Homo sapiens: one gene and its partners. The protein of the gene in region 5 purifies or fractionates together with the protein of the main gene of each other region. This does not show direct contact. Each region holds a gene or a part of one and is shown on either strand. Other genes may lie near its edges.

What was found.
Region 1: the proteins of TRNT1 (region 5) and CLNS1A fractionate together in Homo sapiens (co-fractionation; one large-scale study listed by BioGRID). This does not show direct contact.
Region 2: the proteins of TRNT1 (region 5) and DPYD fractionate together in Homo sapiens (co-fractionation; one large-scale study listed by BioGRID). This does not show direct contact.
Region 3: the proteins of TRNT1 (region 5) and GNPDA1 fractionate together in Homo sapiens (co-fractionation; one large-scale study listed by BioGRID). This does not show direct contact.
Region 4: the proteins of TRNT1 (region 5) and PYGL fractionate together in Homo sapiens (co-fractionation; one large-scale study listed by BioGRID). This does not show direct contact.
Region 6: the proteins of TRNT1 (region 5) and MTX3 purify together in Homo sapiens (affinity purification with mass spectrometry; one large-scale study listed by BioGRID and IntAct). This does not show direct contact.
Region 7: the proteins of TRNT1 (region 5) and TBCE fractionate together in Homo sapiens (co-fractionation; one large-scale study listed by BioGRID). This does not show direct contact.

What each region holds. Positions count from the first base shown.
Region 1 is NC_000011.10:77,631,295-77,634,794, reverse strand, and holds part of CLNS1A (methylosome subunit pICln), read left to right. Parts: intron 1-3,500. UniProt on the Homo sapiens protein: Involved in both the assembly of spliceosomal snRNPs and the methylation of Sm proteins.
Region 2 is NC_000001.11:97,918,235-97,922,319, forward strand, and holds the start of DPYD (dihydropyrimidine dehydrogenase [NADP(+)]), read right to left. Parts: upstream 2,801-4,085; 5' UTR 2,689-2,800; coding exon 2,650-2,688; intron 1-2,649.
Region 3 is NC_000005.10:142,000,171-142,003,027, reverse strand, and holds the end of GNPDA1 (glucosamine-6-phosphate deaminase 1), read left to right. Parts: intron 1-898; coding exon 899-999; 3' UTR 1,000-2,357; downstream 2,358-2,857. UniProt on the Homo sapiens protein: Catalyzes the reversible conversion of alpha-D-glucosamine 6-phosphate (GlcN-6P) into beta-D-fructose 6-phosphate (Fru-6P) and ammonium ion, a regulatory reaction step in de novo uridine diphosphate-N-acetyl-alpha-D-glucosamine (UDP-GlcNAc) biosynthesis via hexosamine pathway.
Region 4 is NC_000014.9:50,906,484-50,909,983, reverse strand, and holds part of PYGL (glycogen phosphorylase, liver form), read left to right. Parts: coding exon 1-89; intron 90-1,028; coding exon 1,029-1,163; intron 1,164-1,646; coding exon 1,647-1,713; intron 1,714-3,500. UniProt on the Homo sapiens protein: Allosteric enzyme that catalyzes the rate-limiting step in glycogen catabolism, the phosphorolytic cleavage of glycogen to produce glucose-1-phosphate, and plays a central role in maintaining cellular and organismal glucose homeostasis.
Region 5 is NC_000003.12:3,129,940-3,133,439, forward strand, and holds part of TRNT1 (CCA tRNA nucleotidyltransferase 1, mitochondrial), read left to right. Parts: exon of another isoform or gene 1-740; intron 741-3,500. UniProt on the Homo sapiens protein: Nucleotidyltransferase that catalyzes the addition and repair of the essential 3'-terminal CCA sequence in tRNAs, which is necessary for the attachment of amino acids to the 3' terminus of tRNA molecules, using CTP and ATP as substrates. tRNA 3'-terminal CCA addition is required both for tRNA processing and repair.
Region 6 is NC_000005.10:79,988,463-79,992,616, reverse strand, and holds the start of MTX3 (metaxin-3), read left to right. Parts: upstream 1-1,354; 5' UTR 1,355-1,378; coding exon 1,379-1,459; intron 1,460-1,953; coding exon 1,954-2,023; intron 2,024-2,380; coding exon 2,381-2,457; intron 2,458-3,372; coding exon 3,373-3,465; intron 3,466-3,972; coding exon 3,973-4,154.
Region 7 is NC_000001.11:235,433,427-235,436,926, forward strand, and holds part of TBCE (tubulin-specific chaperone E), read left to right. Parts: intron 1-777; coding exon 778-854; intron 855-2,318; coding exon 2,319-2,414; intron 2,415-2,959; coding exon 2,960-3,024; intron 3,025-3,117; coding exon 3,118-3,182; intron 3,183-3,500. UniProt on the Homo sapiens protein: Tubulin-folding protein; involved in the second step of the tubulin folding pathway and in the regulation of tubulin heterodimer dissociation.

The DNA of each region.
Region 1 (3,500 bases), on a different chromosome or scaffold from region 5:
ATTTGTTTCAGCTTTTCACAAACAAATCTCTTATGTTTCTTCTTTAAGATTTTTTTTTTTTTTTTTTTTTTGAGACAGAGTCTTGTTCTGTCGCCCAGGCTGGAGTGCAGTGGCGCGACCTTGGCTCACTGCAAGCTCCGCCTCCCGGGTTTAAGCGATTCTCCTGCCTCAGCCTCCTGAGTAGCTGGGACTACAGACGTGCTCCACCACGCCCAGCTAATTTTTGTATTTTTAGTAGAGACGGGGTTTCACCATGTTGGCCAGGCTGGTCTCAAATTCCTGACCTCATGATCCACCCACCTTGGCCTCCCAAAGTGCTGGGATTACAGGCATGAGCCACCGTGCCCGGCCAAAATAATTTTTTTGTGTGTGAAACATAAATACAAAAAAAGGGTATAAATACACACACATACTGTGTACATATATATACAGTCCAGCCGTTCTTCATCTGAGGGAGTGAGGGAGAATGCCCAGAGATGATAAAGCTGGAGAAGGAGAGAGTCATGTTCATAAATTTGGCTTATAGCCTTTAGGCTTTGGTGAAACTATTTAGTTTGAGGCAGAGAGGGACAGCAACAGATTAGGTTTGGCTGGACTTGGTTTAGTCTCTCAGATTTGTGTTGAAAGATTTAGAATCTCCGGCTTATTTCAGAGCTTAGTTTTTTATAGGAAGTTGAATTTTTTTTTTTTTTTGAGATGAAGTTTCACTCTTGTTGCCCAGGCTGGAATGCAATGGCGCAATCTTGGCTCACCGCAACCTCCGCCTCCTGAGTTCAAGCTATTCTTTTGCCTCACCCTCCCGAGTAGCTGGGATTAACAGGCATGCACCACCATGCCTGGCTAATTTTGTATTTTTAGCAGAGATGGGATTTCTCCATGTTGGTCAGACTTGTCTCAAACTCCCGAACTTAGATGATCCATCTGCCTCGGCCTCCCAAGATGCTGGGATTATAGGTGTTAGCCACTGCACCCGGCCAGGAAGTTGAATTTTTATCCAAATAAGGAAGATACAGAGGCATGAATAATATAAAATAGACAGTTTAAAACAGGTAAAATAGGTAATCAAATTAAAATTAGGTAATTTAAACTTAAAATTTTTTTTTTGTATCTCATTCCAAAATTAATCTTAAACCAAATAATTAAGTTAACCCAAATTCAAGACCTCTCTTAGCTTCCTGTCCTGTTTTTCATCCCGTGCTGGGAATAAAGGACACTCACCATACTTGTGCAAAAGCATTTGAATTCAGCAAAACATGTTCTCTACATGTTTACTCTGTGTCTAATTCTTCTTGTCTTTCCCTTTTGACTCACGGTTTCTTTGGAACTGGGTATGATTAATTAAATGTTTTAGAAGGATTTCTTCTAGAATATATACAAAGAGTAAATGCAAATCAGAATTTAATGATCAGACAAAACAGTTATATTTTTAGATGATACAGTGAAATCTTTTATGTTTCTCTACATCACTTTGAAAGTTAGAACTTGAATACTTTCAGTAGATTTATTACAATCATCCCAGCAAACTTTAATGGCAGCATGTCTGGCCTATTTCATCGTGGCCTCTGCTAGAATTAGAAAATCTGGTGGTGGTGCAACAAATAATTCATGTGCAATAGGATTTAATTTGTTGTTAATAGGTATTTGTTCAAATTAAAATTGCCAGATTAAATGAATGTACTGTCAAATCTCTTTTTTTTTTTTTTTTTTTTTGAGATGGAGTCTCCCCGTTGCCCAGGCTTGAGTGTGGTAGCGTGATCTTGGTTCACTGCAACCTCCGCCTCCTGGATTCAACCAATTCTCCTGCCTCAGCCTCCCAAGTAGCTGGGATTACAGGTGCCTGCCACCACACCCAGCTAATTTTCGTATTTTTAATAGAGACAGGGTTTCGCCATGTTGGTAGTCTGGTCTGGAACTCCTGACCTCAGGTGATCCATCCACCTCGGCCTCCCAAAATGCTCCCAAAATTATAGGCCTGAGCCACCACGCTCGGCTTATAATGTCAAATCTTTTTTAACATAGTAACATGCTGTTGGAAAAAATAAGTTGTTGAAAGTAAGTTGTTTTCCCATTTAAAAATATCTGTGAATATTAATATATGATTTGCATTTGTAAATCTGAAAAAGTAAAATACAGAAACCTAGGGTTTCTTTTCTTTTTTTATTTAAAAAAAAAAGAATTTAACGATTAGAATAAGTGTTTTTAAGTGTGGAACTTGGCTTCTGTCCTATAGAATGCATAATCCCAGTTCATGTAAAAGATTATGAGAGTTCCATAGCAAATGCTGTGCAGAGGAGCATTTGTATTCTCTCTGCACTAGTAAGGAATTACAGAGGTATTATGATGGCTTTTAAAAGTGAAGGCCATAATTTGATAGGCACTCATTCTATGTTTAGGTTTCAGTTTTTCCATGTCGTCATTGAGTCATTCAAGTTTTATGGCTCTGGATATTTGAAATTATTTTGGACACCCAAATTTGGAATGTTTCTTTCTGAATTGTGATAACGCCAGAAAATTTTTGAGATCAGAAAAGGGCAGTTTATTTGCTTTAAAATAATACAGCTTTTGTAGGGGACTCGTGATACTTGGGCATTATTTCCTCTCCACATTAAAAGGAAAGCAGTGGGCAGGAAAGATGCATACAGCACATAACCTCATTACATAATACAATGTTTCTTTGGAACCAGTAGGAATGAGTTGTTCTGGAAAACAATTTGTAGAGGTTTTATCACTTTTAGCTCTTTAAGATTTATCACTTTTAGGCCAGGCGCAGTGGCTCACGCCTGTAATACTGGCACTTTGGGAGGCCGAGGTGGCAGATCACCTGAGGTCGGGAGTTTGAGACCAGCCTGGCCGTCATGGCAAAACCCCATCTCTATTAAAAATACAAAAATTAGCGAGGCGTGGTGTCACACGCTTGTAATCCCAGCTACTTGGGAGGCTGAGGCAGGAGAATCGCCTGAACCCTGGAGGTGGAGATTGCAGTGAGCCAAGATCATGCTACTGCACTCCAGCCTGGGTGACAGAGTGAGACTTCATCTCAAAAAAACAAAGATTTATCACTTATAAGCTTCCTAGTTTTCCTTTACTTTTTTTTTTTTAATAAGAATGTTGGATAGAAATCTTTCCACATGACAGTGCATATATTCTTACTTTTGCCTTTTGAAAGTATACAATTAGGGGCAGGGTGTGGTGGCTCATGCCTATAATCCCAGCACTTTGGGAGGCCGAGGCGGGTGGATCACGAGGTCAGGAGATCCAGACCATCCTGGCTAACACGGTGAAACCCCGTCTCTAAAAATACAAAAAATTAGCCGGGTGTGGTGGCGGGCGCCTGTAGTCCCAGCTACTGGGGAGGCTGAGGCAAGAGAATGGCGTGAACCCGAGAGGCGGAGCTTGCAGCGAGCCGAGATCCGCCACTGCACTCCAGCCTGGGCGACAGACCGAGACTCTGTCTAAAAAAAAAAAAAAAAGTATACAATTACGTAAGTTTTAGTATATTT
Region 2 (4,085 bases), on a different chromosome or scaffold from region 5:
AGATGCTGTCAACTTGTGACATTTGTTTATTATCCTTAGCAGATTTTCCATGTGCAATTCAGAGAGGCTAACTTGCCCAAACACACAGCTTAAAGTTAGACCTCAATCAGAGGCAGTTGGTTTCAGAAGCCAGGCTCTGAACCACATTAATATATCTGAAAAAAAACATGATTTCTCATGCAACTTCTATGATTACAACAACAACAACAACAATTCTGAGTAATGAGCTAGGTCCTATTACCAAGTAACACATCCTTTCCTTGCCTATCTCCCAGCCCAGGGATATTCCAGCTATGGAGTTTGGTGATCTGATTGTTTTCCATGTTCCTAACCGTCAAATCCTGATGTGATATTGGATTCAGACTAGAAATTATGAAGCAGGCACACAAAGCACCTTTATATATACCTCAATAACTTTTCCCCCAGAAACAAAGATATTTCTTGGCTGTTTCACTGAAACCTGAGGTTCTGTAGTTAGCTCATAGGGAAAAGTCAGTCACTATTAGAGTAGGTTGTTATCATCACCTTCTGTTCTTTTAACAATTGTCAAGTACTTTTCACATTTATCAATGTGTTCTTATCACATTCATTAACTGCTTCATACCAATATTTTTAAAATATTACTTGCTTATCCATGTATTTGAAGCTAAAACAATGATCACAATCAGATCTCTAGACAATGGTTGTAATGAATTTGTTCAAGAAAAGCATTCAAATTTGATGGAAAACTGAGCCTTTATAATTCATTCTAATTCTTCAACACAAAAATGAACTTTGGTAAATCAATAGGATCAACTGAGGCATTTATGCTTGAATGTGCTCCCCTAAGCTTAATGTATTTTTCCTCACTGCATTATATTTTAATGATTAATTTCATGCTCTTTCATGGTATTCTAGCTCATGAATCACGGGTATTACTTTGAGGGAAAAGTAAGGTGCTGTGAGTGATGAAAGATGTTACTGATTAAAGTGTTGCACATATGAACTACATAAGAGCTGAAGGTGTTTGAACACCAGCAATCTAGATTAAAAGTAATATTAGGCAAACTGGCCATATAGACTAAGGTTGAATTGAGTGGAGGGAGTGGGAAGGATGGGCTTCTTAAATGTTCTTAGTTGAAACAATATATGAAATCAAGCTTGGCATTCAATGTTTCACTGGCATCTTTCTCCTCAGTAGAATGTAAGAACTGATTTCGAAGACAACTGCAGAGAAAGAAATCAGTTAAGCAGATAACACACCATTCTGAAATTAAAGAGCCAAAAGCCACCCATCCTAAGTCAACTCCGATATCTTAAATCAATACTGCCTTAATACTGTCAGAAGCTTGTTTTTCGACTTAGTAAATAAAATTTTTTAAAAAGTTAAGTCAAAGTCACAAGGACCAAAAAGGAATAGACTACCCTAAATGAAATATAGAAAAAGACAAGTATCTATTATCCTGCACACAGATGAACAACTATTTGTTAAATATATCATATTGCTCAATATCAAAAAGTCAACTCTCCAAAACAGAAACCAAAAGTAAACTAACCAGAGATGTCCACATAATACACTTTGGCTCTTGTTACTAAAATGATTTTTCAAACCAAGTTATGGAGCCTGGAGAAAACAGGACTACTTCCTCCCAGAATATAAAGTTTCTTCAATTACGGAGGCAAAATGTGGCAAAAGCAGCTATTTTGCAAACAGGTGGTTTGCAAAACTTTTACTTAAGCCGCCAAAAGGACTGACGAAAGGAAAATTTTGTTATTTCTAAAGAAAACACACACACACATAATTTTCTACCAGAGTAGAAGACTCAAATAAAGAAAAGCCCCAAACAAAACAGAAAACTAAAAATCAGTTTGTCTTAGCTCAAAAGTGCTGACCTAGGTTTAGTATGTGTAAAATCACTGTTGATAATTAAATCCTTTTCATCGCATATATTAAGATACTAGAGAGAAAGGAAATGCCATGTCGTTTCAGGTAGGACCTTATTTACATAAAAAAAGATTTTTTTTAACAGAAACGGAGTGCAAGAGGGAATCAAAAACCGTTGAGAGGAGAGAAAAATACAGTTAGTTTTTCTGAGGGCACTGCATTTTTCATGTTCTGAATACTTCGTTCCATTCTCTCCATGTTAAATTATTTCATAAACAATACTATGACTAGAGGCGACTGCTACAGCTGACACACAGATGTTTTATTTCTATGCTTCACCTTTGCAAATAGCAGGATTCAGCTATTGGAAATGGGGGCAGTGGAGGTGTCCAGAAACGACATACAGGAGGTGAAGGGGTAGAACGTGTGGGAAATGGGCACTCCTACCCCCTAGAGTCCACCTCTCTGGAACTCCAGTGCTTCTTCAGTCACTGACATTCAGAGGAGGACAAGACAGGCTTCCTGAAATCTCTTCCGAAGTAAACAGGTCCCGACGCAAAGGGCAACCCCTCCAGTAGCGGAAAGTCCTCCCCTGAGCTCCCCGCCTGCCCACGCGGGCCTGTGGCTCCGCGCTCCTCCGCTCCCCCGCAGAGCTCCCACGGGGGAAACTTTCCCGCGTCTCTCACTCTCCGGGGTGCGGGGGCCGCGGGGGCCTCCCCGGCACCTACCCGCAGAGCACTCCCCACCACCCCGCCACCACCGACGAGCCGGCGCGAAGTCCGTACCTCGATGTCCGCCGAGTCCTTACTGAGCACAGGGGCCATGGCAGTGCCTACAGTCTCGAGTCTGCCAGTGACAAACCCTCCTTGCGTCCTCAAGCTCCAGCCAGAGAGCCAAGTGACAGCAGCCGGAGCGCGAGTCGAAAACAGGCAGACTAGGGCCGGCGGCGCGGGGGCGGAGCGGGCGCGGGGCGGCAACGCCCCCGGGGCGGGGCTGCGCTCTCGGTCCTGCGGCTCCCGCGCCAGGCACGGCAGCCGCAGCCCGGCCTTCCCAGTTCAGCCCGCTCCGCGCCCCAGCCTGCAAGCAGAAGGGAGGGAGGGAGTAGAGCACCCGCTCTGGGGACTGGCCTTTAATCTCTAAACTGCTAAAAACAGAGCTAGGCAGGCGGGGCCAGATAGGAGGGATCCCCAGGCAAAGGTAAAAGCAGTCCGCGCTCCAAGCAACAACTTGCACTTTTTCTTTTCTTCCACAGAAACCCCGCGAGATGTAGATACATTGTTTGAGGGGCAACTGCATTTTCAGGAACTCCTCAAGGATGAAATAGTAGATGTTCCTCCATCCATCCACCAAGTAGGTGGGCGGGGTTTGAGCTGCAGTGGAGGATACCAAAGCACCGGTCTTCTGAGAGTTCACAGCCCCAGCGGGGAGGGGAGGGAGGCGAGCAAAAACATCCACAGCCCGCAGCAGCATACAGGAAGTGCTGCAGGTGGTACATAATCAAGGTTGTCTTTTTGCAGGAAAGTCTCATTTTAATGGTTATTTTTTTAAATATTTTTTATTCTAAAACGTGAAACTCTTTTGAAAAGTTGCTCTTCGTTTTTGCTCTAGAGCTTGCTGAGGAGAAGGGAGAGATTTCCTGTAGAGTTGGTCCCAATCCAGAAAACATTCACCTCGTTTTTTGAGGATATGTGTACTCCAGACCTCTCTCCTTTTCTCCCCGCCCCCCCCCCACCCCTGTTAGATGCATCCCACCTCTCTTCTACCATAACACTTTCTACTTCCGTTAGGACATTTGCGGCACTCCTTCATGCACTTGGCTAGGTAGTGACACCTTGGAGTCAAGTATTTCTCCCTTATTATTTTTTCATTAGTCCATTCATCGTTTTATTCAACGAATATGTTTATTGAGCATTTTCAATATGCCAGACACAGACACTGTGCTAGGTTCTCCGGATATAGTCTTCAAGAATACACATCACTGTCATGGAGATTATACTCAAAATAAGCAAGTAAGAAAATGTGATGCCTGCTTGTAAGATAAAAGAAAAATAGGACAGAATAACTAGGGTATGGGTACCTTGCGTGGTTGAGAAGGCTTCTCTGAACAAACCATCAGATTACCTTCCAGAACCTGGAAATTACTAAAAGACAGATACATTTTTCTTGAATCAAATATTAACAGACACTAGAAAGTTAAATGGAAACCTTAGAATCATCTTTG
Region 3 (2,857 bases), on a different chromosome or scaffold from region 5:
GTAGATCCAGCTTTCATCCTCTGGTCATTTTAATTGACAACTGTAATCTTAAGAAATATCAAACCCAACTGCATCACACTACACAGTCATTTCTCTTCTGCCTGTGACTGCAAAGATCCATTTCTGGAGATCTGTTTGCTCTGAGGAGGAGGAAAGAAAACGCAATGTGGTCCAAGGACTATGTGGTGACCTCACAGTGCCATTAAGCCTCAGGTTTTCTCTTTTCAAATCTTAAACAAGCGATTCCTTTCTTTTATTTACTTTCTTTCTTTTTGAGACAGGGTCTCACTCTGTCGCTCAGGCTGGAGTGCAGTGGTGTGATCTCAGCTCACTGCAACCTCCACCTCCCGGGCTTAAGTGATTCTCCTTGCCTCAGTCTCCCAAGTAGCTGGGATTACAGGTGCCCGCCACTATACCCAGTTAATTTTTGTATTTTTAGTAGAGGCGGGGTTTTGCCATGTTGCCTAGGCTGGTCTCAAACTCCTGACCTCAGGTGATCCACCCACCTCGGCCTCCCAAAGTGCTAGGATCATAGGTGTGAGCCACGATGCCCAGCCCTTCTTTTACTTTAAAAGGATGCACACTGCTTTAGGCAAACATGTGAAAATCCTCTTTTACTCAAGTAGGTCAATTAGGAATTTGTCCTTTGCTGAAAAGACTAACCTTTAAATAGCCAACTCCCATAGTGATTGAATTTATAAAAGTTCCATGAATGTAGTACTCACTGTGAATAACTCTTTTTATACTCTTAGGGTGTTTATCATTTGGGGATCATAGAGAAAAGAGAGAAGTGTCAGCTCTAAGACAAAATTTGAGAGCTCCTGGATGTTATGATTGATAATCAAGGAACTCTTGCCACTGCCTGAATTAACTACTTTTTGTTTTTAATTTTTTGTAGGTTTAATGCTTGTTCATAACAAGTTGGTGGACCCCTTGTACAGTATCAAAGAGAAAGAAACTGAGAAAAGCCAATCTTCGAAGAAACCATACAGCGATTAGCCTGTGCTGGGACCTAGTGTCAAGTACCCATAGGGAAAGGCAGGTCTTTCTGGAAATTGTCTTTAGAAGAAAGAATTGTATTTCTTTAATCTAGTATGGTTACTCCAGATAAGTGGGTGAACTTATTGTTCTTGGCCATGAGGCTGGGAGCCTAGTCACGGAGTTTAGCTATAGGGAGAATGTTTGTAACTTAATCAGAAAAAAAATATCTGCAAAATGTACTCCATCATTTTGATGTCTGCCAAACCCAGGTTGGGAGTTTTAAACTTTTTGTTCTGCTTCAGCCATGGTTCACACATATGACACACTCCCGTCAGGAATTTCTCTCCTTACACGCACTGATTTTCAAGTGGGAGGGAATTAGGGGCTTATGTATATTGGATACCACCTCTTTGAAGAGTCTTGAGAGTCCTTCTTGCACAGGCCTGCCCCTTGGTTGAGAACCATTGTTCCAAGTGAAGGCACAAACTCTCAATATCTAAAATAAGTGCAAGGAAGCAGTCTCTTTGGTCAGTAACAAGTGCAATGGAAAGAAAACGATCCCTTCCTTCTTCCACTTTCACAGCTTTTCTCTGAACTAGGAGAACCTGGGGGTGGATTTGGGTGGGTGGGGCCAAAGAGGAGGCTTCTATTGATAAATCCAGAGCCTCAAGGGGCCCAGCCACGTCAAACTTCTCTCCCTCAGGGACTCTCCAGCACCAAAAGGCAGAAGGTGGAAGCCGTTTTTCCCCCAGAGCCCTGTGTTTTTGTGAAAGCCTCACTGTGGCTCCTCTGTTTTACATACTCATTAGTAAGTGGGAGGTCCACTGGGGCAACAGACACTGCCACAATTTCAGTGTTGTGTTCAGCCAAGGGGACGGTCTGGGCAGGCAGCTTAAGTGTGAGTTTAGTCACAACTCCTGAGTGTCCCGCTCTCCTGCTTACCTAGGAGGTGAGTGCCAGGAAAATACACCAAATGCTTCTAGTATTGTTTCCCCACTTAAAATAGTCCTGCTTAAATTCACATGGTGTGGTCTGATGTTCTGAGAGCATCAGGAAATACAACCCTTTTGCCCATTTACCCTTCTCCCCGGATCCCAAGGTGGTCTGTTGCTCTGGCTTCCTTTCATTGTCTTAGGCCTTCATGGAGTGGATGCTGCCTCCTCCTGGCTGTTTTTGTGCCTGTTTGAAGCTACTGCTGCCTCCATTTCTGGGAAAGACCTTTGAGAGCCTAGCCCAGGCCTAAGGGCTATGTTTGGTACCAGTGTTTTGTCTTTAGCTTTTCTATGTGATTGTGCCGTCATTCTGTTTTAAGCTCATGGATCAATGGATTTGTTTACAATGTGATATTTTCTATTAAATCCAGTATTTTCAAATAACATGTCATTTGTGGATTTGAGCCCCCAATTTTAGAAGACTCTCTGGGCTATTTATATATTTTAGAAAGAGCTGGTAAGCAAAGCCTCACATTCAGTCCTCACAAGAGCCTGCAGGAAGGCCACAAGCATAGCAACCATCATCAGAGTGAAAAATAAGATTTTATGAAAATGGAGCACTTACAGGAAAAAGGGTAGGAATGAACAGATGAGCAATAAATTGTCATGTTGGGGCTGTACCTGAGATCCAAACGAGGATACAGCTGTTATAAAGATTAAGGCAGATTTGTGATGAGGGATATTATTGCAAGGTATGCAAAAATACATATAGGTTTTTTTTTTTTTAAAGTTAATATAATGGAATATCTTAGGGCAATATAGCCAATTAAGGAGGTAGATATAGAAGTTAAAAGAAGGGTTTAATTTTTTTAACTATTTTGAGGCTGGGTGCAGTGGCTCATGCCTATAATCCCAGTGCTTTGGGAGGCCAAAGCAGGAGAATC
Region 4 (3,500 bases), on a different chromosome or scaffold from region 5:
AATGTGGAAATGGCAGAAGAAGCTGGGGAAGAGAACCTGTTCATCTTTGGCATGAGGATAGATGATGTGGCTGCTTTGGACAAGAAAGGGTAAGAGAATAGCTTCTCTTTGCTAGGCAGGACTGCCCCTCCCCCCTAGAAGGTATGTGACCTCAGAGGGCTTCCTGCCCACACCGATATCCCACTGAAATTGGATCACATAAGAGGTGGCAGCAGAACATCTCCCACGATGAGGCAGGAGAGCCTCCTGGCCACAGATTAATATTATTAAACCCAGCAAATAAAAGTACAGACACATGGAGGAGTTGCTATTTGTTATCGGCCATTGCAGAGCTGGCCTCAAAGAGCTATTTTTCCTCCGTATGTATGATTTTTACTTTGATCAAAAGATGAACCAGTTTCTAGTTGGAAGGGTTGCCTATAATTTAAATCATGATCTAGTGCTCCTTTAAGATATCAAAGAAATGCACTAAAATGTGATAGAGAATAGATACGGGTGTACAGAAGTAATTGGAAACATTTATTTTCACTTCATATCTGGATGGGTTTATTAACCTGAGTTCAAGCACAAAATAAAGAGTACTGCCCAAAGAAGTAACATTTGGAGGATGTTGAATATACTTCCTGACCCTTGGAAGTCAGTTTCACTCAGTAGCAACAACTTTTGAGAATCTGTGGATCCAAAAAGCAACTGATCTACTTAATACAATGTTCATTTAAAGCCATAAAGTCTGCTTTGAAATGGACCTTGCTGTATTCTACCACATCAGACTCTTGATGTTTGACTAGAGTTTTCATTATCTATTGTTCTTAGTGTCTTTGGTTATAAGGAATCAAATTTACAGGAAGAAAAACTTACAGATCTAGTTAAAAGTTATATATACTCATGGTGAAATCTATAATGAAGTCTTTGAATGCTAGTATTTCTGAATGTATTTTTTCACAGTGAATGCAGTGTCTAGTGTGTTGTTAATCACACAACACAATAACAGAGCCTTTTTTTATCACCCACCCACCCCTACCCCACAGGTACGAGGCAAAAGAATACTATGAGGCACTTCCAGAGCTGAAGCTGGTCATTGATCAAATTGACAATGGCTTTTTTTCTCCCAAGCAGCCTGACCTCTTCAAAGATATCATCAACATGCTATTTTATCATGACAGGTGAGTTCCCATAAGAAGATGGTGCTATTTGGATCATGAAAGGGGGACAAGAAAATCTTAAACCAACCAACTCTAAAACCAACAAGAAAATCTTAAACCAATCTTAAACCAACTTAAACCCACTCATGTAGATTAGCATAGATTAGCGTGATCTGCTCAGGTAGTTTAGGCTTGGGGAAAAAGTTAGATATTCTCCACCAGCGATGCCAGTAAGGTTTAAGAATAACACACACAAATCTGGTTCTCTTTTTCTCCTTCCACTGATATTCCCAACTTCCAAATGCATCCCAGTGATGACATTCTCACATGTGAGAACCATAAGAAGGTTGAGGGCTGGTTAAAAGTCTTACAAACAGAAATATGAATTTGGTAAACCAGCCATGCCTGATATTAAGCAAAAGATGATTTTACATGGAATTTTAGCATATATCTATTAATGAAGATTTTGACTGTTTTTTTCCTCTTCCACTCACAAAATAAAAGGTTTAAAGTCTTTGCAGACTACGAAGCCTATGTCAAGTGTCAAGATAAAGTGAGTCAGCTGTACATGGTGAGTAAATTGCCAAGATTTATAAAGAAAACCAGTTTACTATGATTCATTAAAATGTGGGTTTTTTAATTAAATGCAAATATCAGATCCCCATGTAATATCAGATCCCCATTAAGCAATCAAAAAAAAAACAACAAAAACAAACAAACAACCACAACAAAAAAAAAAACCTTGTCTTTTCCCAAGTTCAGGCCAAGGTTGAGATTTGACATTTCAGCAGGAGTTGTAATTTTTTTTTTTTTTTTTTTTTGAGACAGATCTCGCTCTGTCACTCAGACGGGAGTGCAGCGGCGTGATCCTGACTCACTGCAACCTTCACCTCTCGGCCTCCCAAGTAGCTGGGATTATAGGCACGTGCCACCACACTTAGCTAATTTTTGTATTTTTAGTGGAGATGGAGTTTCACCGTGTTGGCCAGGCTGGTCTAGAACTCCTGACCTCAGGTGATTCACCCGCCTCTGCCTCCCAAAGTGCTGGGATTACAGGTGTGAGCCACCATGCCCAGCCAGTTGTAAATTTTTTAATATCCAAGTTTTTTAAAAGTCACAAATAATTCAATATTTTTTGAGCACCCACTCTGTAGCAGACATGTCCTGGAAGCTAAGGAAATAAAGCCTCAGAGGGGCATTAGGCGTCTTTTTTATGCCGGGCACTGTGCTGGCACTGAGAACACAGCATGAGCAAAGTTGAGGTCTCTCCCTCCCTCCCCTCCCTCAAGGAGCCTGTTTGAACATCGAGATTCTTAACCAGAGGTACACATCAGAATCACCAAGGTAGCTTCATCATAGTACAGATGCCAGCCCCCGCACTGAGAGATTCTTTCCCAGTAATGGGTGGGGTCATCAGTATTTGAGAAACCTGCCATGATGATTCTAAGGCTAAAACATGGTTTTTTAAGATAAGGACTGACCCCTATTCTCTGAAAATTGCAAAATAGGTACCTCTTCTGGACTTCTCATGGAGGGGGCTGTATCAATAGAATATAAATTCGTAGAAAGAGAAAGGTGTTCATAATTGAATTTTTAAAAAAAGAAAGAAGAATAAGGAAGACAATACTATACTGAGGGGAAAAAAAAGGGATGGGTAGAGCCATGTGAATAAGCCTCTGCATGCAAAGTTATACGCTTTATCAAACAACTCTCTAGCTGTGTTTTGTAAATATGTAAAAAGGTTGATCATCTCTGATAGGAGAGACTTTTAGTGAATTTCAGATACCCTAGAGGAATGGATACTGGAGGGGGCTAGCTCTGTGCCAAGACTCCAGGGTGGGTTTTACTAACATTTCTTTCTACTCCTTTCCCAAGGCAGATAAAAGGGTAGTTCCTACTGTCATCCTAAATGTCCCACTGGGATTTTAAAAAGGATCATTCAACGCCTGTGCTGCTTTACAGCCCTTATCTTCTAATAGAATAATGGCCAGTCCCCCAGTGGCATATAGACCAGAATAAGTTCAAGTTAATGGCTACAAACAAGCAGGGCAGTGCTAGAGCTAAGCTCAGGGGCTCACTACCTGCTTCCTGTACATTGGAGAGAAAAGCCATATACAGGCCGCAAGAATGCAAAGACACAGGGAAGAGAACGGCCACCTCAAGACAGATCAATAAAACAGCACAGGAAAGAAAAATATGAACAAGGGCAAGGACAAATGTGAATGTCTCCTCTGTTAAAATTATGGCCCAAATCCAAACGATGCTCATCTAGAAACCCAGCATTTGATTCGGTCTTTCTTGTTCATTAGTGCTAATTGCAGCTTTTTACTCTTAACAATGATTGTATTGTTGAGACTT
Region 5 (3,500 bases):
ACTGAAGGAAGAAGGAAATAGGAGTTGCCTCCATTGTGCACGTTGCAAAACCTGTCTGGAAGGAGCATAGGAAATGGCTTTAGCTAAGTGCCAGTAGCTTCTTGCTGTTGCCACAGTTTCATTAGTGTTGATTCTCAATGTTGTCTGCTGATGTTGCTAAAGCAGCCACACAGTAGCATTACAAAGCCTGTGGGAATTTTAATAGCACCTTCATAAATATATTTAGTAGTATATGTAGAAATATGACCTATACAGCACTGGCTATCTATTAGATTCACCTGGGGAGCTTTTAAAGCACACATGCTCGGGTTCTACCTGCAGCCTACTGAATTAGAATCTCTGGGTGGGATGACCATCTATATTTTTAATAAAAGCTCCACAAGTTAATTCTGATGCACAGAAGATAGACGAACCATTACTTTAACATGACTCACCTTGTATTAGCTTATTCTCAAAGCTACTTTCCCATTCTTGAAATTGGATGATGGCTTTTTAGGTACGTGCCAGAGATAAATGGCCCAGAATATGTTGATTCTTTTAGATTGTTTTAGGCAGACTTTAAGTAGAGGGCTTAAATGCATGTTTGGTTTTGCCGATGCTTCACTATCTTTTTTAATTGGAGAGAGTGAAAATTGCTAAAAATTGCTGTCCAATAGAAATTTATGAGCCCATATGTAATATAAACTTTTTTACTAACCACATTAAAAAGATAGAAATGGTGAAATAAATTTTAATAATTATTTTTGGTTCATCTAATTTAATCCAATATATCTAAGATACTATCAGTATGAATTTTGTATAAAAATTGTTAATGAGGCCGGGCACAGTGTCTCCCACCTGTAATCCTAGCACTTTGGGAGGCTGGACATGGTGGCTCATACCTGTAATCCCAGCACTTTTGAGTGGCTGAGGTGGGTGGATCACTTGAGCCCAGGAGTTTGAGACCAGCCTGGGCAACACGGTGAAACCCCATCTCTACTAAAAATATGAAAAATAGGCAAGCATACTGATATGTGTCTGTAGTCCCTGCTACTTGGGAGGCTGAGGTGGGAGGATCACTGAAGCCTGGGAGGGGGGCTTGCGGTAAGCCGAGATTGTGCCACTACACTCCAGCCTGGGCGACACAGACCGTGTCTTTAAAAAAAAAAAAAAATTAATGAGATATTTTATATTCTTACTTGGAAGTCTTTGAAGTCTGGCATGCATTTAATACAGCACATCTGAATTCAGACTTACCACATTTTAAGTGCTCAGTAAGTACAAGTGGCTGCTGTTTGAATAGTGCAGATTTTGAAGCTGTGATTTTGGGTTGAGTTGAAGCTTTTTTCTTTCTGTGTATGCCCTTCACAGCCCCCAATTTTTCAACTTCAATTGCAAGAGGCCTCTTGGAAGAAGGAGTAGTAATTAACTCTTGATGGCCTAACTCAGGTCATTCTGCATTTTTTGGAAATAAGGTTCTAAATATTGATTACTATAGTTTCTTGAACATCATTTTAACAATTGTGTTTAACGTTCTAAACCTGAAACTGGCTAGCCATATGTAGAAAGCTGAAACTGGATCCCTTCCTTACACCTTATACAAAAATCAATTCAAGATGGATTAAAGATTTAAACGTTAGACCTAAAACCATAAAAACCCTAGAAGAAAACCTAGGCATTACCATTCAGGACATAGGCGTGGGCGAGGACTTCATGTCCAAAACACCAAAAGCAATGGCAACAAAAGCCAGAATTGACAAATGGGATCTAATTAAACTAAAGAGCTTCTGCACAGCAAAAGAAACTACCATCAGAGTGAACAGGCAACCCACAACATGGGAGAAAATTTTCGCAACCTACTCATCTGACAAAGGGCTAATATCCAGAATCTACAATGAACTCAAACAAATTTACAAGAAAAAAACAAACAACCCCATCAAAAAGTGGGCGAAGGACATGAACAGACACTTCTCAAAAGAAGACATTTATGCAGCCAAAAAACACATGAAAAAATGCTCATCATCACTGGCCATCAGAGAAATGCAAATCAAAACCACTATGAGATATCATCTCACACCAGTTAGAATGGCAATCATTAAAAAGTCAGGAAACAACAGGTGCTGGAGAGGATGTGGAGAAATAGGAACACTTTTACACTGTTGGTGGGACTGTAAACTAGTTCAACCATTGTGGAAGTCAGTGTGGCGATTCCTCAGGGATCTAGAACTAGAAATACCATTTGACCCAGCCATCCCATTACTGGGTATATACCCAAAGGACTATAAATCATGCTGCTATAAAGAGACATGCACACGTATGTTTATTGCGGCACTATTCACAATAGCAAAGACTTGGAACCAACCCAAATGTCCAACAATGATAGACTGGATTAAGAAAATGTGGCACATATACACCATGGAATACTATGCAGCCATAAAAAATGATGAGTTCATGTCCTTTGTAGGGACATGGATGAAACTGGAAACCATCATTCTCAGTAAACTATCGCAAGAACAAAAAACCAAACACCGCATATTCTCACTCATAGGTGGGAATTGAACAATGAGATCACATGGACACAGGAAGGGGAATATCACACTCTGGGGACTGTGGTGGGGTCGGGGGAGGGGGGAGGGATAGCATTGGGAGATATACCTAATGCTAGATGACACGTTAGTGGGTGCAGCGCACCAGCATGGCACATGTATACATATGTAACTAACCTGCACAATGTGCACATGTACCCTAAAACTTAGAGTATAATAAAAAAAAAAAAATTAAAAAAATAAAAAAAAACATATACCTATTGAAGGAAAAAAAAAAAAACACAAAAAAAAAACACTGGATTTTCTCCACCCTGAGAAATGAGGTCCTAAGGAAGTTAGAGCCTAAATGGTGTGGTAAGGTAGAGGTGGTGATTGCTTCCAGAGTCCTGTCCTTGAAGGACTGGCAAATGAGAACATGGATATATTCTAAAGTTGACTTTTTCTAGGCTACTGGAGAAGTGGCAAGAATGGAATCTTTTAGTGCAATGATCAACAAGTTAGAATGTCAAAGACTTGGGTGCCCTGGTAAAATGTAATGTTCTGTATAAAATCAAAATGTACAAAAACACACAGCCTTTCTGATGGCTGCTATATAGTGATACTTGGAGTTTAAATCCTGTACCAATTTTCAAATCTTAATAGCTGCTTTGCCATGTGTAAAATTAGTTTTCAGTATGCAAGAATATGAGAGACTAGAATAGTGTATTATTGTCATATCATAAGGGTTTTATAATTTGTCAGGTTATTTTATGTATCTTTTTGCTTCAGTACAATCATATGCTAGTGGCATAGAAGATTATTTCCCAGCTAGCTGTGGTAGCTCATGCCTATAATCTCCCAGCACTTTGGGAGGCCGAGATGGGAGAATTGCTTGAGCCCAGGAGTTAGAGACCAGCCTGAGCAACATAGTGAAATCCCATCTGTACAAAAATAATAATAATAAATTTAGCCAGTTACAGTGATGCACACCTGTAG
Region 6 (4,154 bases), on a different chromosome or scaffold from region 5:
GTTTCGACAGTTTTAATGGTACATATGTTATGCATTTTCCAATTATACAGTTATTATTAATGAATTCTCATTTCTGACATATCTCTTTTTCATTTCTTAGAACTCTTGGTTTTGAAACATGTAAAAAAGACTTTAGCAGGCTGGCACTGTAATTTGAATGATTATGTAAACAGTAAGGGAGTGCCTAGCAAATATTTGTTGAATAGTAATTTTACGAAAAGTTGCAGAGGTTTCTTTTGAGTTTTAGTTAAGAAGATCCGACCATCTCAGTGGAATAGAGGAAAGAACTCAGAGGCATGACTGCGAGGGTGTCCCAGAAAGACTACTGTGCCTTCTAGAAAAAAGACCCAGCACCCAAGTTCTAACTCTGAGACCCAGTCATATGTTTGGATCATAGCATTTCCAAGACCAAAATTTCCTCTTTAATAGTTTTTCTGAGAAACTGTCAGGTTTAACGTCAAGAAACATTTAGTCTGTGCTCATTAGGCCCACAGACATGACGAGCTACATGATTTGAGGGGCCCAGTCCAAAATAAAAATGCAGAGCCCCTTGTTCAAAACTTAAGAATTTCAAGACAGTGACGGAAGAGCATCAGCCAAATGAGGAGCCTTTTTAAGCACAGAGCCTTGTGTGGCTGCACAGGTCCCAAACCTATGAAGCTAGCCCTCTTCTGTGAAAGGCAAAAGGTCTGTAGCTAGGGAGAGAAGCTACAATTCAAATATGCACAAGGGGCTACAAGAACCCAGAGCTCCTAACTTTGTAAAAACATCACAGGGAAGGTGAGTTAAGCTCATTTTTGAGGGAGCAGCTGCATAGGGAAGAAAGATATTCCAGATTGAAGGACCAGCACTGAAGGTGGGCACAATTTACCTGACGTTCAGAAATACTGTAACTTTTAAGCAGGGTTGTGCCAGTGAACATGAGGGTGAGAACAGGTTGAGGCTGGAAAGGCAGGCAGAGGCCACATACATGGGAGAAGGGGTTGAACAATTACTGAGTGCCTCCTGTGTGCCAAGTTCTTTCTCTCCGACATTGTAAATACCACAATCTTGTAAATACTGGGTCATCCCTGTTTTACAAACAGGTTAATTTAGGCATCACACAGATTTAATGTTCAAAGGGTTTGGAACACTCTAGGGATCTAATAAATATTAATATTTGAAGAATTACTGGTGGGTCTGACTTAAGGCACACAACTCTTACCCTTTAGGCCAAGCTGCTCCTAAGAGTTCTTCTTAATCCCTCCAGTCGTTGTTTCTCTCATCTCTCAAGAGCCCCCAAATTACCCTTCCCTCCCTTAGCCACGCCCCCGCGTTTCACGTGCCGGAAATTAGGAGGAAAAGTACTTCCGGGATAGTAAAGGTCGGCCCGCGCAAGATGGCGGCCCCCTTGGAACTCAGTTGCTGGGGAGGCGGCTGGGGACTCCCATCGGTTCACAGCGAGTCCCTGGTGGTGATGGTGAGGCCGCCTCGCGGGCCAGGGCGCAGGAGGAAGGGGCGGGGCTGGAGGCGCCAGGCTGACTTGCCCCAGTTTCCCGCTGCGCTGCGGGGTCCAGGAGGGCCGAGCCGCTGCACGCTGCATTGCCCTGGGCTCCCTCCCACCGACGAGTCCCAACCTGGCCGATACCCCCGCCGAAGGCCGGCGGCGACATCAAGGCTTCTCCGCTTGGCTCCGAGTTTTGTCCGCCTCACAAAGCTGTCTGGGCGGTGGAGTGAAACCCCGAAGCAAGGGGCGCGCCCTCCCTACTCTGCATCCCCAGGACCTTTTGGGGAGCAAAGTCCTCGAAAGCCGGGTGGCTGGCGCCCGCGTCCCTACTTGAGATCACGGGGAGGGATGCGGCCTCAGTATCAGTCGCCTTCTGCCTTTGGGGGATGGGGCTGTGAAGTAAAGCTGCTCTGCAGCTTTGCATTACGCACTTGGTCTAAAATGTTTGATTGCAAACTCTGTTTCAGGCTTATGCCAAATTTTCTGGTGCACCCTTGAAAGTCAATGTGATAGATAACACCTGGAGAGGTTCAAGAGGTATAGTGTAAACCTTTACACTCCCCTTTCTGCACTCTTTTTTTTCTTCTTCCATTTAAAGCTGTGAGGTATATAGCTATAATATTGAGGATTTAGTTTCTTACCGTGACCTTGGCTCTGTGTTGTTTATGGTTTGATCATTCTGAGTAATACCTCAAAGTGCAAGCGAAATCACTGGAAATTATGAGAAACGAAAATGTTCTTTAGAACCGCTCTTTGTGAAACAGCAAAAAAACCAAGACAAGCTTACTCATTTTTTCCCCTCTAAATGTGCAACTGCTATAGTTTTTAGGATATTGGAATCTCTCAGAGGAAATCACACTGTGTCCTTGTATGTAAACTGTTTTTTGATTATAGGCGATGTACCAATTTTGACAACTGAAGACGACATGGTTTCTCAGCCAGCAAAAATACTAAACTTTTTAAGAAAACAGGTGGGTGGTTCACTTTGAAGAAGTAGATTGGTAGATTGTTGATCCCTGCATGTTGGGCTTTATTTTATTTATTTATTTTTTTTTGCCAACTCATTAGACAATTGGAGATACCTGGGACAAGATGTAAAAATAGATTTGAGAATCACTGCTCTAAAGCATGAGTTCTGTGATTTGAAAGTCATATGAAGAGGTAGTCAGTTTATATTTTAATAAACTTTGCTTGAATTTTATTGAAATTTGTATGTAAGTAGATTTAATTAGCCATTTTCACTATTAAACTTATTGATAGGATTGTGTATTTTGTCACATAGTTGGTACACATTTTGTGCTGGGCATGACACCTGAGCTCTCACCAACTAGCAACTATATTATTTTTAAAAAGCTCTTAATAGCAGTTTTATGGAATAATGTATCTAAATGTTTTAACAGTAGAGAATTATGTATCCAAAATGTTTAAACATGTAAAGATTTATATGAATGGATAAGTTATTTGTTTTGCCAATACTGTACTTAAAAAAATTGTGTCAATAACATTTTGAACTTTTATAAATTGGAAGGTTTTTTCTTTTGTCTTGGGGAGAAACACAGCCAATTGGAACTGTTTCCTTCTTGTTAAAAATAATAGTTGCTTTGTTTGTACTACATGCCATGCACTGAACTAGGTCATTAACAAGCATGAAAATAATAGTAGTTAATATTGTAACATTTATTGACCATATTGTGTATGTGATGCTGTGCTAAGAACTTTATGTGCATTAAGCAATAGGTTTCACTGGATTTGTATTTCTCTTTCTCCCATTTTAATACCACGTTTGCTATTTGTAAGGAAAAATATGAATCCTGATTTGATTAGTTTTACTGTCTTTGGGCTGCTCTTTGACTTCTGAGTTTCTTTGGTTTATTTTTTTTTAATAGAAATATAATGCTGATTATGAACTCTCAGCAAAACAAGGGGCAGATACATTGGCTTATATTGCTCTCCTCGAAGAGAAGCTTCTCCCTGCAGTGGTGAGTGTTCTTAAATATTACAGTATTTTAGTAGCCTAGTTGCAAATGTACATAGTCTGTTTAGAAAAAAACCAATGAGAAAAGTCTTAAGAGAAAATTTTACTTATATGTTAATCTTAATTCCTTCATATTACTGTGAAACTGGATTCTGTTAGGCATTCAACTAGTATGTGAAACAACAAAGTAAAATAAAATGTCATGTTGGAAATTCTTTGTGGGAGATGGATCTTTTTGCTCCATGTATAGAATTGGGTGTAATTCATTCATTCAACAAATGTTTATTGAACACCTGCTATGTGTCAGGCCTTGTTCTGGGTGTTTGGAAGATAGCAGTCAACAAAACTCACACATTTAAAATAATCTTGTTTTATCCTGAGTCATTCTAACTGGAAAATTTGTATGAAGACACTTCATATAAAGATATTTATGAAAAACTCTCATGTTGATTGAGTGATCTTTCATTTAATAAAAGAACATCCTTGTAGTGTTTTTTCTCTTCTTTTGCAGCTTCACACATTCTGGGTTGAGAGTGACAATTACTTTACTGTGACAAAGCCATGGTTTGCTTCACAAATTCCTTTTCCTTTGAGTTTGATCCTGCCTGGAAGAATGTCTAAGGGAGCACTGAATAGGATTCTCCTGACCAGAGGACAGCCTCCCCTCTACCACCTCCGAGAAGTGGAAGCACA
Region 7 (3,500 bases), on a different chromosome or scaffold from region 5:
GGCCAGGCTGTTCTCAAACTCCCGACCTCAAGCATTCTGTCTGCCTCAGCCTCCCAAAGTGCTGGGATTACAGGCGTGTGCAACCATACCCGGCCATTTTTGTATTTTTAGTGGTAATGGGTTTCATCATGTTGGCCAGGCTGGTCTCCAACTCCTGACCTCAAGTGATCCACCTGCCTTGGCCTCCCAAAGTGCTGGGATTACAGGCATGAACTCACTGTGCCCGATCTCAAAGAACTTTTGATTGGAGAGAATCATGGATGTAGAATATTTGTCATAAATATATAATGAAAACTTTAAAAAATGTATAATTAAAAAAATAATGAAAGAAGAAATAATTGTTGAGAAATTTATGAAAGGATATGAAAAATTAGCATATCCTTTACAAACCCAGATTGGCATTTAGAATTGAGGAAAGGTGTGTAACATCAATTTACTTATTTTGGTTAAGCAAATTCTATCAAATAATAATATGTGCAGTTAGTATCTCCTGTTCCACCTCGTAGCTGCTTTACCTAAACCATGCATTGACACGTACCTCCAAGGCCTCAAAGTGCCCACAGTGTGTGCTCCCACAGCATTAAAATGCACCCCCTTAACATTTTATTTATCACCCCCCACCACTATTCCAGGCCTGAAACAGTCTTATGAACTGTCCGTGAGGCACTTGTTTGCTGAAACAGTAACTGAGCTGAATTCTTGTGGTGGTTCCTATGAACACCCGGGAAGAAACAGCCAGCAGAGGCCGCCTGAGCCTGAACCGAGTTTCTCTTCCAGGTGCTGCGGTGTGTCGCGGGGTGCCCAGGCCTGGAGGAACTCTACCTTGAGTCTAACAACATTTTCATTTCCGAAAGGTAACTAGCACTTACTTAAATGCATCTATCCCCATTTAATCATCATTCTGAGTAAATAAATGGTCTCAATTATATCTAACCTTAATTTTTAGAAGGATTTGCAAACAAGAATTAGGAAAAATGCTTATTATTCATTGCCTTCACAAATTAGAATTTCACTAATTGGTTCTAATCAAAGGAAACTCATCAGAATTAAATATTTGTGAAGACATGAGTTATATTAGTTTTGCATCAGTGTATTAACTTGCTGTTTCTTTTTTTTCTTTTTCTTTTTTTGAGACAGAGTCTCACTCTGTCGCCCAGGCTGGAGTGCAGTGGCGATCTTGGCTCACTGTAACCTCCGCCTCCTGAGTTCAAGCGATTCTTCTGCCTCAGCCTCCCGAGTAGCTGGGATTATAGGTGCCTGCCACCATGCCCGGCTAATTTTCTTTATTTTTAGTAGAGACGGGGTTTCACCATCTTTTACGGGGTTTCACCATCTTGGCCAGGCTGGTCTCGAACTCCTGACCTTGTGAGCCACTGTGCCTGGCCAACTTGCTGTTTCTAAATGGAAGTTCTGTAGGATATGCTATAAGGATTAAATAATGTATTTTTCATTAGCATCATCTGTTTAAGGTCATTGTACCAAAGTACATGTAAAACTTTGTTCTCTGAAATATATTGTTGCCTCATCTCCTTTTTAAATTAATAATATTAAATTACTATGTAAAATTAACCTAACTGTGGGAAAATTTACAACAGATTCTGAATTAAAGGATTCAGAATCTTAAAGATTTTCGTTTACAGAAGGGTTTCATTATGTAGGCAAATGCAGGTTTTTTGTTTTGTTTTTTTTTTGAGATAGAGTTTCATTCTTGTCACCCAGGCTAGAGTGCAATGGCACCATCTCGGCTCACTGCAACCTCCACCTCCCTGGTTCAAGTGATTCTCCTGCCTCAGCCTCCCATGTAGCTGGGACTACAGGCACGTGCCACCATGCCTGGCTAATTTTTGTATTTTTAGTAGAGACGGGGTTTCACCATGTTGGCCCGGCTGGTCTTGAACTCCTGACCTCAGATGATCCACCCGCCTCGGCCTCCCGAAGTGCTGGGATTACAGGTGTGAGCCACCGTGCCTGGCCTGCAGGTTTTTTAAATTAAATTTTTTTATTTTGAGATAATCATATATTCACATGAAGTTTTATAAGAAATGATACACAGAGATCACTTGTACCCATGACCCAGGTTCCCCCATTGGTAACAAGTTGCAAAACTATGATATAGGATCACAGGCTAGGTGTGACACTGATACCGGCAGGAATATGTGCATCACCACAGGGACCACTCAGGTTGCCCCTTTACAGTCATATTTACTTGCTTCTTATCCCCAGCCCTCCATCGCACCAAATGCAGGGATTTTAAGGCTGTATCTTTGAAAACAATTAAGAGATAAATTCACGGTGAAAAAATTTTATTTTCCATACAGGCCAACAGATGTTCTCCAGACAGTCAAGTTATTAGATCTTTCCTCTAATCAATTAATTGATGAAAATCAGCTGTATCTGATAGCCCACCTGCCCAGGTAATTTGCCCCTAAATGCCTGATACAATAGTGTTCAGTCAATTCTTAGTGAAGCAGTTTTCATATGCTATGTATGCTTTCTCAATAGAAACGTGGTAACAATGATGGAATTTCTAAATTGAGTAATTCCCTTTGGGAAATTTTCATTTGAATTCATTTAGAAAATTTACTTGTGAACCCTGTATAATGTGGACTATGTCTGTACCAGATAATTTGAAGAATGAATAATTTGACCCTGGTGATAATGCGGAAAGTCTTCATTCATTAAACTCCGGGCAGTAGACCGTGTCTCTTTCCTCTGAGACGCATTTAGCACCTGACATAGCAGTAGGTACTCAAGAACCATTAGGTGACTATGGAGTCATTAGAATACAGGATAAAGAGTTCACTTTGCATGTCCTAAGTTGGACTTTATGGTTTCTAAGTATTTTACATGGGATTAAAAACCCAGGGTGTAGGAAAAAAATTTACAAACCGAGTCTGGTTGATACCCCATAGCATTTTACATTGTTCTGTGTAATCAAATTGTACATTTTGAATTTCAGGTTAGAACAATTAATCCTCTCTGACACTGGAATTTCTTCTCTACATTTTCCGGATGCTGGAATTGGTATATAAGATTAGTAAAGTTCCCCACTGCCCCCCCACACTATACTTCAGCTACTTTCACTTCTACTGTGTAACTTCATTCCTCTTTTTATAGGGTGCAAAACGTCCATGTTCCCATCCTTGAAGTACCTGGTAGTAAACGACAATCAGATATCACAAGTAAGAGCTGCTCGGAGTATGCCCAGCACACTGTTGCCTCTTTCCACTCTCATGGCAGAGTTTGGAGGTTCCTTCTACCAAAAAAGTAAAAAGAAATTTAAATCGAAAGAGAAATACCTCCTCAGAGTGAAACTCCTCATAAGAAGCCAAAAATATTAAGAAAGAAATTAGTTCACTTCACACTTAAGTGGACTTCACACTTAAATGGCACATTAATAGAGTAAAAGGGGCCGGGTGTGGTGGCTCAAGCCTGTAATCCCAGCACTTTGGGAGGTCGAGGCGGGCGGATCACCTGAGGTCGGGAGTTCGAGACCAGCC